Linked DNA regions of Homo sapiens. The protein of the gene in region 2 interacts with the protein of the main gene of each other region in a pairwise test. Each region holds a gene or a part of one and is shown on either strand. Other genes may lie near its edges. The genes, in order: RACGAP1, TANK, INPP5K and COPB1.

Region 1 (2,993 bases), on a different chromosome or scaffold from region 2:
TCTTTTTTTTTTCCAGGGAATGCTGGCAGACTTTGTGTCCCAGACTTCTCCAATGATCCCCTCCATTGTTGTGCATTGTGTAAATGAGATTGAGCAAAGAGGTCTGACTGAGGTAAGAGTCAACTGTAGGAGATGGTGAATTTGTTATTTGTGTTAATTCGGAGGTTTTTAAATAAAAATGTCATCTTGATAATAGACAGGCCTGTATAGGATCTCTGGCTGTGACCGCACAGTAAAAGAGCTGAAAGAGAAATTCCTCAGAGTGAAAACTGTACCCCTCCTCAGCAAAGTGGATGATATCCATGCTATCTGTAGCCTTCTAAAAGACTTTCTTCGAAACCTCAAAGAACCTCTTCTGACCTTTCGCCTTAACAGAGCCTTTATGGAAGCAGCAGGTAAGGGCAGATGTAATACTTGAATATGAATTCCTCCACGGCAGTAGTTTTTCTTACTCTCTTTATTTTTTTATTTATTTTTTATTTTTTAGACAGAGTCTCACTCTCGCCCAGGCTGAAGTCAGTGGCGCAATCTCAGCTCACTGCAACCTCCGTCTCCCAGGTTGAAGCGATTCTCCTGCCTCAGCCTCCTGAGTAGCTAGGATTACAGGCGTGTGCCACCATGCCTGGTTAATGTTTTCTATCTTTAGTAGAGATGGGGTTTCACCATGTTAGCCAGGATGGTCTCGATCTCCTGCCCTGTGATTTGCCTGCCTCGGCCTCCCAAAGTGCTGCGATTACAGGCGTGAGCCACCGTGCCCAGCCTCTTTTTTTTTTTTTTTTAAGACGGAGTCTTTCTCTGTCGCCCAGGCTGGAGTGCAGTGGCGCTATCGGCTCACTGCAAACTCCGCCTCCTGGGTTCAAGCGATTCTCCTGCCTCAGCCTCCTGAGTAGCTGAGATTACAGGCGTTAACGGTGTTATACCATGTTAGCCAGGCTGGTCTCAAACTCCTGACCTCAGGTGATCTACCCACCTTGTCCTCCCAAAGTGCTGGGATTACAGGCATGAGCCACCACACCTGGCCACCTTCCTCTTTTTATTAGCTCCTGCCTAGTACAATGCCTGAAACATAGTAGGTGCTCAAGTAGTTTGATGGATGAGTAACTGTATGCGTGTCACCCTTGCCTATCCTCTTGCTTTCTCATTACGTTATTGTGTACAGTGTTCTTCCTTTCTTTCCTTCCTCTCCAGTTAGGTTGGAGCTTTTTCAATTCTTAGAATATACCAAGTTTACTCCCTACCTTAAGGCCTTCACATTTGTTGTCTCAACCTGAATGCTCTTACATTAGATACAGTATGGTTTGCTCCTTTATTTCTTTCATATTTCTCTTCATATACCTTGTCCCCAGAAACACCTTTCCTGACAACCTTGTCTAGATTAACAGCTCTCATTTCTTTCTAGCTTCTTGCCTGCCTTGTTTTCTTCATTTATGTATCACTCTACCTGATAGGTATTTGCTTTTTGACTGACTCCACCAATAGAATGTAGGTTCCATAAGATAAGGGCTTTGTTTACTTCTGCTTTATCCTCAGCACTTGTACCTGGCACATCGTAGGCCCTTAAATATGTCTCATGAATGAATACCTTCTTGGTAATTGTAGTCACTGCAATTGTATGCCTGTCTGCCTAGCACATCAGTTGCCAACTGCTTTCCCTAACTGCAAAGGCCGATTTTTTAAAAGTTTTGACTTCTAATATTGAGCTGTTGGCCAGTATCCTGCTTGTTAATGAAACTAGAGTCTGATGTAGTCATGAACTAATCAGGAGTTTCAGAAGCTTACTGTATAGATGAGACTTTGTGGTCGATAACTTGGAAGCCCGCTGTCAAGGGAAAGAAGTCTAGGCCTCTTGGTGCTTTCTTTTCAATTACAGAAATCACAGATGAAGACAACAGCATAGCTGCCATGTACCAAGCTGTTGGTGAACTGCCCCAGGCCAACAGGGACACATTAGCTTTCCTCATGATTCACTTGCAGAGGTGAGTACAGCAGAAACTTGTTCTGGGAGTTAGGGAATTTTTTTCCAAGGGGAAGATAATGTGGGTTGAGTGTTTGGGAGTATGAGGGATGAATTGTTTTCTTATAGAATTTATATTTTGGTCTGCATTTAAGCAAGGAGCAAGACTTCTAATTTAATATTCTTTTGCTTAGAGTGGCTCAGAGTCCACATACTAAAATGGATGTTGCCAATCTGGCTAAAGTCTTTGGCCCTACAATAGTGGCCCATGCTGTGCCCAATCCAGACCCAGTGACAATGTTACAGGACATCAAGCGTCAACCCAAGGTAGGCAGGTGCGTGTGTGTGTGTATGTGAACTTGTGTAATGTGATAACTTGAAAGACAGTTGAGAAGCCCTGAGCTTTGGAAGTTTGCTAACAGATTTGCTGGCTTTTAGGTGGTTGAGCGCCTGCTTTCCTTGCCTCTGGAGTATTGGAGTCAGTTCATGATGGTGGAGCAAGAGAACATTGACCCCCTACATGTCATTGAAAACTCAAATGCCTTTTCAACACCACAGACACCAGATATTAAAGGTAAGGCCCAAGATGTGCTTCTTCAGGGACTTGACTCTCTCTTTAGTTTTAGTCATATGACCTCTTCCTGCCTTTGCTAGAGCTGTTTGAAAATTCTAACATTAAAGGAAAATTTGTATAATTCTACCATCGTAATTTTTTTTTGCTTTTCCATGTTCTCCTTTCTTTATCCATATGGATATATGTTTTTTAAATATAGATATAATAGGCTGGGCATGGTGGCTCACACCTGTAGTCCCAGCACTTTGGGAGGGAGGCTGAGGCGGACGGATCACAAGGTCAGGGGATTGAGACCATTCTGGCCAACATGGTGAAACCCCATCTCTACTAAAAATACAAAAATTAGCTGGGTGTGGTGGCGCATGCCTGTAATCCCAGCTACCAGGGCGGCTGAGGCACAAGGAATTGCTGGAACCCAGGAGGCGGAATTTGCAGTGAGCTGAGATCCCGCCACTGCACTCCAGC
Region 2 (3,577 bases):
GGATTTTTTTAAAAAAAAAATTATTATTATTATTTTGAGACAGGGTCTTGCTCTGTCACCCAGGCTGGAGTGTGATGGCACCATCACAGCTCACTGCAACCTCGAACTACCTAGCTCAAGCAATCCTCCCACCTCAGCTTCCCAAGTAGCTGGAGGCCACAGGCACAAGCCACCACACCCAGCTACATATATCTATATAACTATACGTATTTGTAGAGACAAGGTCTTACTATGTTGCCCAGGCTGGTCTCAAATTCCTAGGCTTAATCAATCCTCCTGCCTCAGCCTCCCAAAGTGCTGGGATTATAGGCATGAACCACCGTACCTGGCCCAACTCAGGAATTTTGTACTTATACTAGCTTTGTACTTATACTAGCTTGCATAATACTAGCTTTATTAATACTAATAAAATAGCTTAAAAGGTTTTTTTTAAAAAACTCATTTTAAGAAATATTCTTTCCATCCTAAACTGTAACATGGTCTTCAAAACAAACTAATTTCTTTGCTTTTTCTGCCAAAATATCAATTATCTAACCTTATGCCCCATGTCTTGTGACAACTCAACACTAATTCTCCTGAATTTTTTAAGCTGAATACTTTTCCATCAAGTTGTAATCACATACCAGCTGTTTCCCTTGCTGTAGTATAGAAAGCAAATGTACAATGCAGGGTGCCATCTACTGAAACATGAATGCACAGACTAGTAAAAGAACAAGCAAGACATATAATAGAGAAAAAAGTAACAAGCATTAGAACTGATGCACTTCACAGCTCCACAGGAATTCTACTTGCAATAAATGAAATTGTTTAATTTGTTTCATTTAGTAGCAACTATAACTGAGACTATGATGTGAAATAAAGTACAATGAACAAGAACATAAGTGAGGTTATAATTAAAACTTATTGTCAGCCATGCCTAGTTCTTCCCACTACTAAAATATACCACAGCTTGACAACTGCCTTCTTTGCGTGCTGATTTAAGTCTATAACCTATATGTGTACTTAAAGCAAAAGGGTATTAATAACTTTTTTAAAAAAATTAAATATCTCAAGGCAAAGAGAAATCAGACAAATGTTTGCAAGTTACATAGACATTTACATCAATCTGTATTTTCATAAGCTTCTGTTTTTTGTAAAAATTATATAGTTTTCATTTGCTTTCAGACATTAAACTTTTTTTTAACTAAAAGAATCATTCTGTGATAGAATTTGAATCTAAAAGGGAGGGCAGGAGTGGTTTGGGGGATATTAGTCTGTGAGCTTTAGAAACATTAAATAAAATATTTGATATCATACACATGCAGAGACTATTTAAAAAATATACTAGGCTACATGTTCATTTCCAGATTAGCAACCAAAACCAAACTAAACCCTACAGATCTGTGTACTATATAACTGAAGATGTAGTAGAAGTATTCACTGAAAGATAGTTCACTTATTTTGATAAATAGAAATGTAAGATGCAATTATTTACTTATGAAAGATCTTGAATTCTTATAAAGATGAATATGATATACACAAACTATTAAATAAAACAGCATTTGTTTCACACTATGAAATTTAATATTCTTATTAATCCTGAGTAAACAAGCTTTGAATAAGGAACTAAGAAAGTGACACCACGACAGATATGGATAAGGCTTAACATGTATTTTTAAATCTGACATAAATTCTAAGGTACTTTCCAATAAAGTTTTACCATATTCAGCTTTTCTAATTTCATGTCATTTATTATGGGACTTGTTTTTTTGAAAGCCTTAACTTTGGCTGTCAGTAGTTTAAAAAGGATGTTTGATAACGTAAAAGAGATGCATATCTGTGCATGTATGGCAAAATGTGTGTTCACACATAATAATATATTTGTTAATGCAAAACAGTTACCTGCTGTGGTCCTCGGATTGCTTTTCCCGGGGAATCGAGTGAGGGAAAAGGTGCATCAGATGGGTCCAGAAGTGGGAAGCTATTTACATATAATGCATTATGGTCTCCAGGTGGCAAACACGCAGCTCTATCCAGAGTTGTCCTGATACAAGTGTTTACGAGATTTGAGGGCTTTGTTTTGTCAGTTGTTTTAAGGTTTTGTATAGCTGAAGCTATGGGGTCAATTCCCTGAATTTCAAATAAAGTTTCTTCTGTTTTAACAAAGTTCCCTGGGTTGTCTCTGAACTCCATATTAAATTTCTCTTGGCACACTGCCTCAGACGTGGCAGGACTAAGGATGCCGGGTCTCTCTGGAGTGCTATGTAAGAAAGTTGAGTCATTGTCCATAGGTGGAAACTTGACATTGAATTTAGAAAGTGATTCAAAAGAGGTGTCTTCCTCATCTCTGCACAGTCCTCTTGGTGTGACAGATGTGATGGATGGTGCACCTCTATTTATATCATCTTTAGCCTGAGGCTTAAACAGCGCTTCTTGTTTATCTGTTTTATCCGTACACTGTATAGGCACAGAGCACTGTGTTTCTGGAGGGAGAAGAACACAAAAGAGAAACAGCCGCATTCAAATCATTAAAAAAATCTGTTCAATCAGCTTTGGAGAGATTATTATTATTTTTTCTATTGGTTTTTATAGCAAATGAAGACAACTGGGATTTTAAAATTTGCTACCATCTTACACAGAATATTAGCAGTCTCCAGCGGGTGAACTGAAACATAGCTTATTAGTCGCAATTTAACTACTTTGTCTTTTCCTAAGTCTTCTGCCGTAAGCTTTGCATCTTGTTCACAGTTACACTGCTCCACACTTGAAAAACATTTGCTTGTAGTGTATACATTTAAACATTTTGTCAGTAACGGAAGCTATAACTGTGAGTTTGCTTAGACAAATAAGTTGTTAAAAGGGAAAATCTTACTAGGTATATCTAAAATTAGGTCATTTATTATTAATGTCACTGTCTAACTAAGTATATCACTAATCAGTTTAGCCACTGTCTGCTCTCAATAATCCATGTGAGGGACTGGTGGTTGCAGGAGTTGGGAAAAAGAAGACAGTGAAGGCAAAGGAAGGATGAAATATTGTGATGCATGTTAAGAAAACTGTGGATGAATAGATTATTTTATCATCTTATATCTTTTTTTAAAAAAGACCTCTGTAAAAAACAGGTAAATATCTGGTAGACAAAAGGGCCTCTGTAGCTCATTTATCTAGAACCACTTATCCAACAAATTCAGCTTTGTAGGACACAGTCAAAAGCTAGAAAGAAAACAGAGCTTCTGAGGAGCCAGAATTAGAGCCACAAGGTTCATAGATAGATGAATTTTGTTCCTATTGTCATTTTAGATTTATTCTAACAAACTTGGTGGTATTTCCACAGCTCATAGCTGGTTTGAAACAGCAAATTAAAAGGGAGTATGAGTTGCTAAAGGCAGACATAGATATCAACAAGAGCTAAAAGCATAGGAAGAGATAAGAAAGACAAAGAAGCTGATATAAGAACTTAGAAAACACTACAGTCTAGTATAGGGCCAATGAGTGCTCAATACAAAAAAACAATCATCAAAGTACTCTCCATGTTGATGATTCTGAGACACTAGAAAAAGCCAAATTAAGCTCCACAATGTCCCTTAAAGAAGGCACT
Region 3 (2,845 bases), on a different chromosome or scaffold from region 2:
ATCATTCCCTCCTCTGAGGCCAAGTGTTCCTCACTGTGCCCTTCCAACATAGTGGGGAAGGTGGGGCACCCAGAGGGGGTGGGCATGGAACTCCACTGGGCTGCTCCAACGGACCTTGGCTGGCCATCAGGAAAGAGGGCCGAACACCAGTCGGCGGGTGGCTGGCCCTGTCGGAATCCCATGGGGCCCAGCGCTGGGGGGTAGGAATGGCGGAGAGCAGAGGCACGGCTGAGAGGCTTAAGGAGGCGGCCAGGCAGCTGCTCTCAGGCCTCCCGCCTTATCTGACCCAAAGCCCCACATGGGGGGATGCTCTGGTGAGAACAGCTGTGAACGTGCAAGAACACAACGCAGATACCAGCGGGGGCCAGGCACGGTGGCTCACACCCATAATCCCAACAGTTTGGGAGGATCACTTGAGCCCAGGAGTTCGAGACTAGCCTGGGCAACATAGTGAAACCCTGTGTCTACAAAAAATACATAACAGCCAGGCGTGGTGGCGTGCACCTGTAGTCCCGCTACTAGGGAGGCTGAGGTGGAAGGATCAATCACTTGAGCCCAGGAGGTGGAGGCTTCAGTGAGCTATGATACCGCCACTGCACTCCAGCCTGGGCGGCAGAACGAGACCCTAACACACACACACACACGCCAGTAAACCTGTATGAAAACGTGAAGGCTGAGGGGCAGCAGCCTGAAGGAGGCCAACACCACCTTGGTCATTCAGATAGCAAGATACAAGGACGCAGGGATGGAGGGAGCGCCCGTTGCAACTTGATCCAGATAGATTTAGGACAAATAAAAGAAGTCCTACTTCTCACATTGGGTAATAAGCCTAATGGAACTCATTAGCCCCAAGGGAGAATACCCAAAGGAAATGGAAACCTTTTCACAAAGGGTTTGAACACGGTTTTGACAGACAGAGCCATCAACGGCTCCTAAGAGGAGCTGGGATATCCGACCTGGCAGGAAAGGCAATCATGGCCTCCACAGGTCTCCCCTGGGGGACTGGCTGACATTCGAATCCAGGGATGGAGGGCTTGGGGATGTGGCCAGCATAGCTATTCCTCTGGCAAGTATCAGGCAGCCCAGAAGTTCACCTCCAAGTCGAACGTGCCGGAGACAGGCTTGTGGTCGCTGATGCCGTACGTCATGTGGCTGCTGTAGCCCCTCAGAGACAAGGAGAAGTGTGACGCCGGCGGTATGGGAGTGTCGGGGCCAGCACAGGGCTGCCGCTTCAGCCTCCACAGGATGCGATCGGTCCATGCAGGCTTGCGTTTTTTCTCACTGCAGGGGCAGGGGGCATAAAGAGGAAGAATGGGGAAAGAAGAAAGGGTTGGCTAAGAGCAGAAATGAGCCCACATGAGCTTGCTGGAGCCCCTAACTCCAGCAACTACTGGCAGCCACAGACCCCCGGGGCCAGAGCCGGAGGGAGCAAGGCAGCAGGCAGGAAGGTGCCTAACAGAATCCAAAGTATGCCAGCACTTGTCAGACTTAGCCAGGACCCTCTGTATGTCTAGCTCATGTTTTTATGGATCAAATTGTGACTCAGAAACATTCCATTTCAAAGCTTTGCTTCTTTCTTGAGCAAAAGCAGCAGTGGATCAAAGCAGCTGAGGTTTGAGATTCTGAGGCTGGACACACCTGAGCTTGTATTTGGCTGCCCTGCATACTAGAAGTATGCCTCAGGAAAGGGAAGGGAAGCATTTAGGAAATGCTTACCAGAGGATGCCTGTGATCAGTACTGTTACCACACCTTTTTTTAAATTTAATTTTATTTTTTTAAAGAGACAGGGTCTTGCTCTGTCATGCAGGCTGGAGTGCAGTGGTGACATCACAGCTTACTGTAGCCTCAAACTACTGGGCTCAGGCGATCCCACCTCAGCCTCCTGAGTGGCTGGGACGGTAAGTGCGTGGCACTATGCCTGGCTAATTTTTAAACATTTTTTTGTAAAGACAGTATGTTTCCCAGCCTAGTTTTGAACTGCTGGCCTCAAAGGATCTTCCCATCTCAGCTTCCCAAAGTGTTGGGATTAGAAGGCATGGACCACTGTGCCTGGGTGTATCATGCTCTCTTTACAGGTGGAGAAACTGAGACTTAGCTTAGAGGGGAAGCACCTTTCCCAAAGTCACAAGGTACTAAGTGGTGGAGCCAGGATTCAGGGCCAGCCAGCATGACCACAGAGCATGTGCTCTTAACCACCAAACTAAACTAACCTCTCTCAGGCCTCAACTTCCTCGCCTGCCAGTGGAGGGAATAACAGTAGTTACCATGAAGGGTTGCTAGGATGAGTCAATGAGATAAAGTACATAAAATGTTTAGCACAGTGCTTGGTGCAAAACGAGCTCGCCATGCACACTGGCCTTTATGATTTCCTCTCAAGAGTCGACTGAGAGGCCGCGCGCGGTGCTCACGCCTGTAATCCAAGCACTTTGGGAGGCCAGGGTGGGTGGATCATGAGGTCAGGAGATCGAGACCATCCTGACTCTCTACTAAAAGTACAAACATTAGCCAGGCATGGTGGCAGGTGCCTGTAATCCCAGCTACTCGGGAGGCTGAGGCAAGATAATTGCTTGAAGCTGGCAGGCGGAGGTTGCAGTGAGCTGAGATCATACCACGGCACTCTAGCCTGGGCGACAGAGCAAGACTCTATCTCCAAAAAAAAAGGAGTCGACTGAGAGACCTCCCACCTGTTCTTCACTTGCCAGTTTCCCTGAGGGGTTTGGAAAAGGTAATACGCTCCGGAGACAAAATGCATTCCTCCTCTAGGTAACTGAAGTTGACCAAAGACGAGTCTCTGACCCATAACCCAGCCTTCCGAAGCAACTACTGTGGCAGTTTCTAAGGCCA
Region 4 (2,477 bases), on a different chromosome or scaffold from region 2:
TAAAACCTACTTGTTTGGTAGCAGACATTATTTTATTTATAAAATGAATATTATAACATTATAGAAATTTTACATAAAGAAAAAAGTTCCTTAGAGCTCCAGCTTCATTTTTCTTTCTCTCTCGTTTTTTTCATACATACACAAACATAGCAAAAAGTCACAGTATAACAACGATTCTGTATTTGAGCACATATATTTTAACCAACAATCAGAGCCCACGGAAGAGCTCATGGACATTTTCTAATCCAGTATTACAAATAAACGATTTTATTTATCTTTTTGAGACAGAGTTTCACTCTGTCACCCACGCTGGAATGCAGTGGTGTGATCTCGGCTCACTGCAACCTCCACCCCCTGGGGTTCAGGTGATTCTCCTGCCTCAACCTCCCAAGTAGCTGGGATTACAGGCACGTGCCACCACACCTGGGTAATTTTTGTATTTTTAGTAGAGATGGGGTTTCGCCATATTGGCCAGGCTGGTCTCAAACTCCTGACCTCAAGTGATCTGCCCGCCTCAGCCTCTCAAAGTGCTAGGATCACAGGAATGAACCACCATGTGCAGCATAAACTACTTTAGAATGTGCCTCTAGCTGAATGGGGGAGAAGATTGAAAAGAAAATAAAAAAAAAATTAATCTGACTATTCAGTTGGGTCACTGCACTAGGAAAAAGTAGGATGGTATAGTCCAATAGAAAGAGGTAAGCAGATTCCAACATTCTATGGGATAACATCTTTTAGATAGCCTAGAATGGTACTGCATATTGAATAACAAAAATGTGCTAGAGGAAATACAGGAAGGCCAGGAACCTACTCTACCATTCCATCAGATTTCTGAATTTCCTAGTCAAATTTTACCTTTTCTGGAGTCAGGCATTTCATATTGGTTGACTTTAATATGTGCTGTAAGTAGTCATTTAAATCAACCATGTTGGTGTTAACTGTCACCTGTAGAGAGGAAAAAAAAGTCAAGGAGATCATAAATCTTACTATGAGAAAGCTGTGAATCACCAGTATGTCATATTAAAAACTTGTTCCAACTGTTTAGGTTGGAAAGAGTAGACACCAAGAAACTAAATAACATCTATAAAATCCAACAAGCTGTAGGTTGGTATCAGTACTTCCCAATAGAGATAACTTCACAGAGATTCAATATGAAGCATATAGAATATTTCTTTTTTTTTTTGAGACAGGGTCTCACTCTGTCACCCAGGCTAGAGTGCAGTGCGTCATTTCAGCTCACTGCAGCCTCAACCTCCCATGTTCAAGTGATCCTCCCACCTCAGTCTCCGGAGTAGCTGGGACTACCACACCGGGCTAATTTTTGTATTTTTTGTAGAGATGGAGTTTCACCATTTTGCTCAGGCTGGTCTAGAACTCCTGAGCACGAGCAATCTGCCTGCCTCAGCCTCCCAAAGTGCTGGGATTACAGGCACGAGCTACCGTGCCCAGCCTCATATAGAATATTTCTAATAAAAGTCAAGGCTCAAAGGGACAAAGTTCCTCAACAGACCATGAACTTTGTAAAGCCTTTTTCGGGCACTAGATTAAATGGTAAGCTCTTGGTCATACATAGAAGGGATGGAATATTACCTATAATGTCTAAACCTATCAGATTGGCTATAGAACTGCTACTCTAATCAATTTATAACAGCAAATTACCAAACTACTTACATGATTTTTAGTTAAGGCTAATTTGCAAGAACAGATACTGAAAGACTATTTGCTTTTCATGTTAAACACTTTTTAGCGAGATTAATTTTATTAGCAGACTCCTCAACAGCAGGCAAAAGGAAGAAAGATAAAGGAATATGAGAAAATCTCCCAAGGACTAACTTTGTTTTCCCATTCAAATTCGGCCCACATCTGACGGAATTCTGCATCAGTGCAAGTTGCAGGCTGGATATAGTCCATGATGTCGATGTGAATATCACTGAGAACCACACAATTTCTGTCACTTGCTGCTCCAGAGACATCATAAACTGCAATTACATATACAAAAAGATTCGCAATCACTGGGGCAAACTTGAATTTAAAAAATCTTAATATCCAAATATCCAAAGAACTACACTATTAACAATAAGATTGTTTATATAATACTTATTATGTACAGAGCTCTATTCTACATGCTTTATAAATATTACTGGTTTAATACTCCCATCAATTCTGATAGTATTATTATTTTCCATCTTACATATGAGGAAATGAAAGCAGAGAAGTTAAGTAAGTTGTTCCAGATCACACAACTGATAAGTGGTGGGGATAGGATTCGAACTCAGGCACACTTTGTTTTTTGTGGTTAAACAAATAATTCAATTCAGTGAGTACTTACATAGCAGTTGCAGCATACTAGGCACTGCAGCAGATATACAAGTGGACGATGTTCCCATAGGAGGTACTTAACTAATACTTTTGAATAAATATTGCTGACCCATACTACTTAATGATACAAGATTAGTCATCCCTCAGTATTAATGGGG

The links.
Region 1: the proteins of TANK (region 2) and RACGAP1 interact in a two-hybrid assay, tested with the Homo sapiens proteins (one large-scale study listed by BioGRID and IntAct).
Region 3: the proteins of TANK (region 2) and INPP5K interact in a two-hybrid assay, tested with the Homo sapiens proteins (one large-scale study listed by BioGRID and IntAct).
Region 4: the proteins of TANK (region 2) and COPB1 interact in a two-hybrid assay, tested with the Homo sapiens proteins (one large-scale study listed by BioGRID and IntAct).

What each region holds. Positions count from the first base shown.
Region 1 is NC_000012.12:49,991,533-49,994,525, reverse strand, and holds part of RACGAP1 (rac GTPase-activating protein 1), read left to right. Parts: intron 1-16; coding exon 17-112; intron 113-196; coding exon 197-395; intron 396-1,870; coding exon 1,871-1,976; intron 1,977-2,148; coding exon 2,149-2,281; intron 2,282-2,392; coding exon 2,393-2,528; intron 2,529-2,993.
Region 2 is NC_000002.12:161,229,856-161,233,432, reverse strand, and holds part of TANK (TRAF family member-associated NF-kappa-B activator), read right to left. Parts: intron 2,463-3,577; coding exon 1,882-2,462; intron 1-1,881.
Region 3 is NC_000017.11:1,496,842-1,499,686, forward strand, and holds part of INPP5K (inositol polyphosphate 5-phosphatase K), read right to left. Parts: intron 1,282-2,845; coding exon 1,095-1,281; intron 1-1,094. UniProt on the Homo sapiens protein: Inositol 5-phosphatase which acts on inositol 1,4,5-trisphosphate, inositol 1,3,4,5-tetrakisphosphate, phosphatidylinositol 4,5-bisphosphate and phosphatidylinositol 3,4,5-trisphosphate.
Region 4 is NC_000011.10:14,459,353-14,461,829, forward strand, and holds part of COPB1 (coatomer subunit beta), read right to left. Parts: intron 1,980-2,477; coding exon 1,834-1,979; intron 946-1,833; coding exon 856-945; intron 1-855. UniProt on the Homo sapiens protein: The coatomer is a cytosolic protein complex that binds to dilysine motifs and reversibly associates with Golgi non-clathrin-coated vesicles, which further mediate biosynthetic protein transport from the ER, via the Golgi up to the trans Golgi network.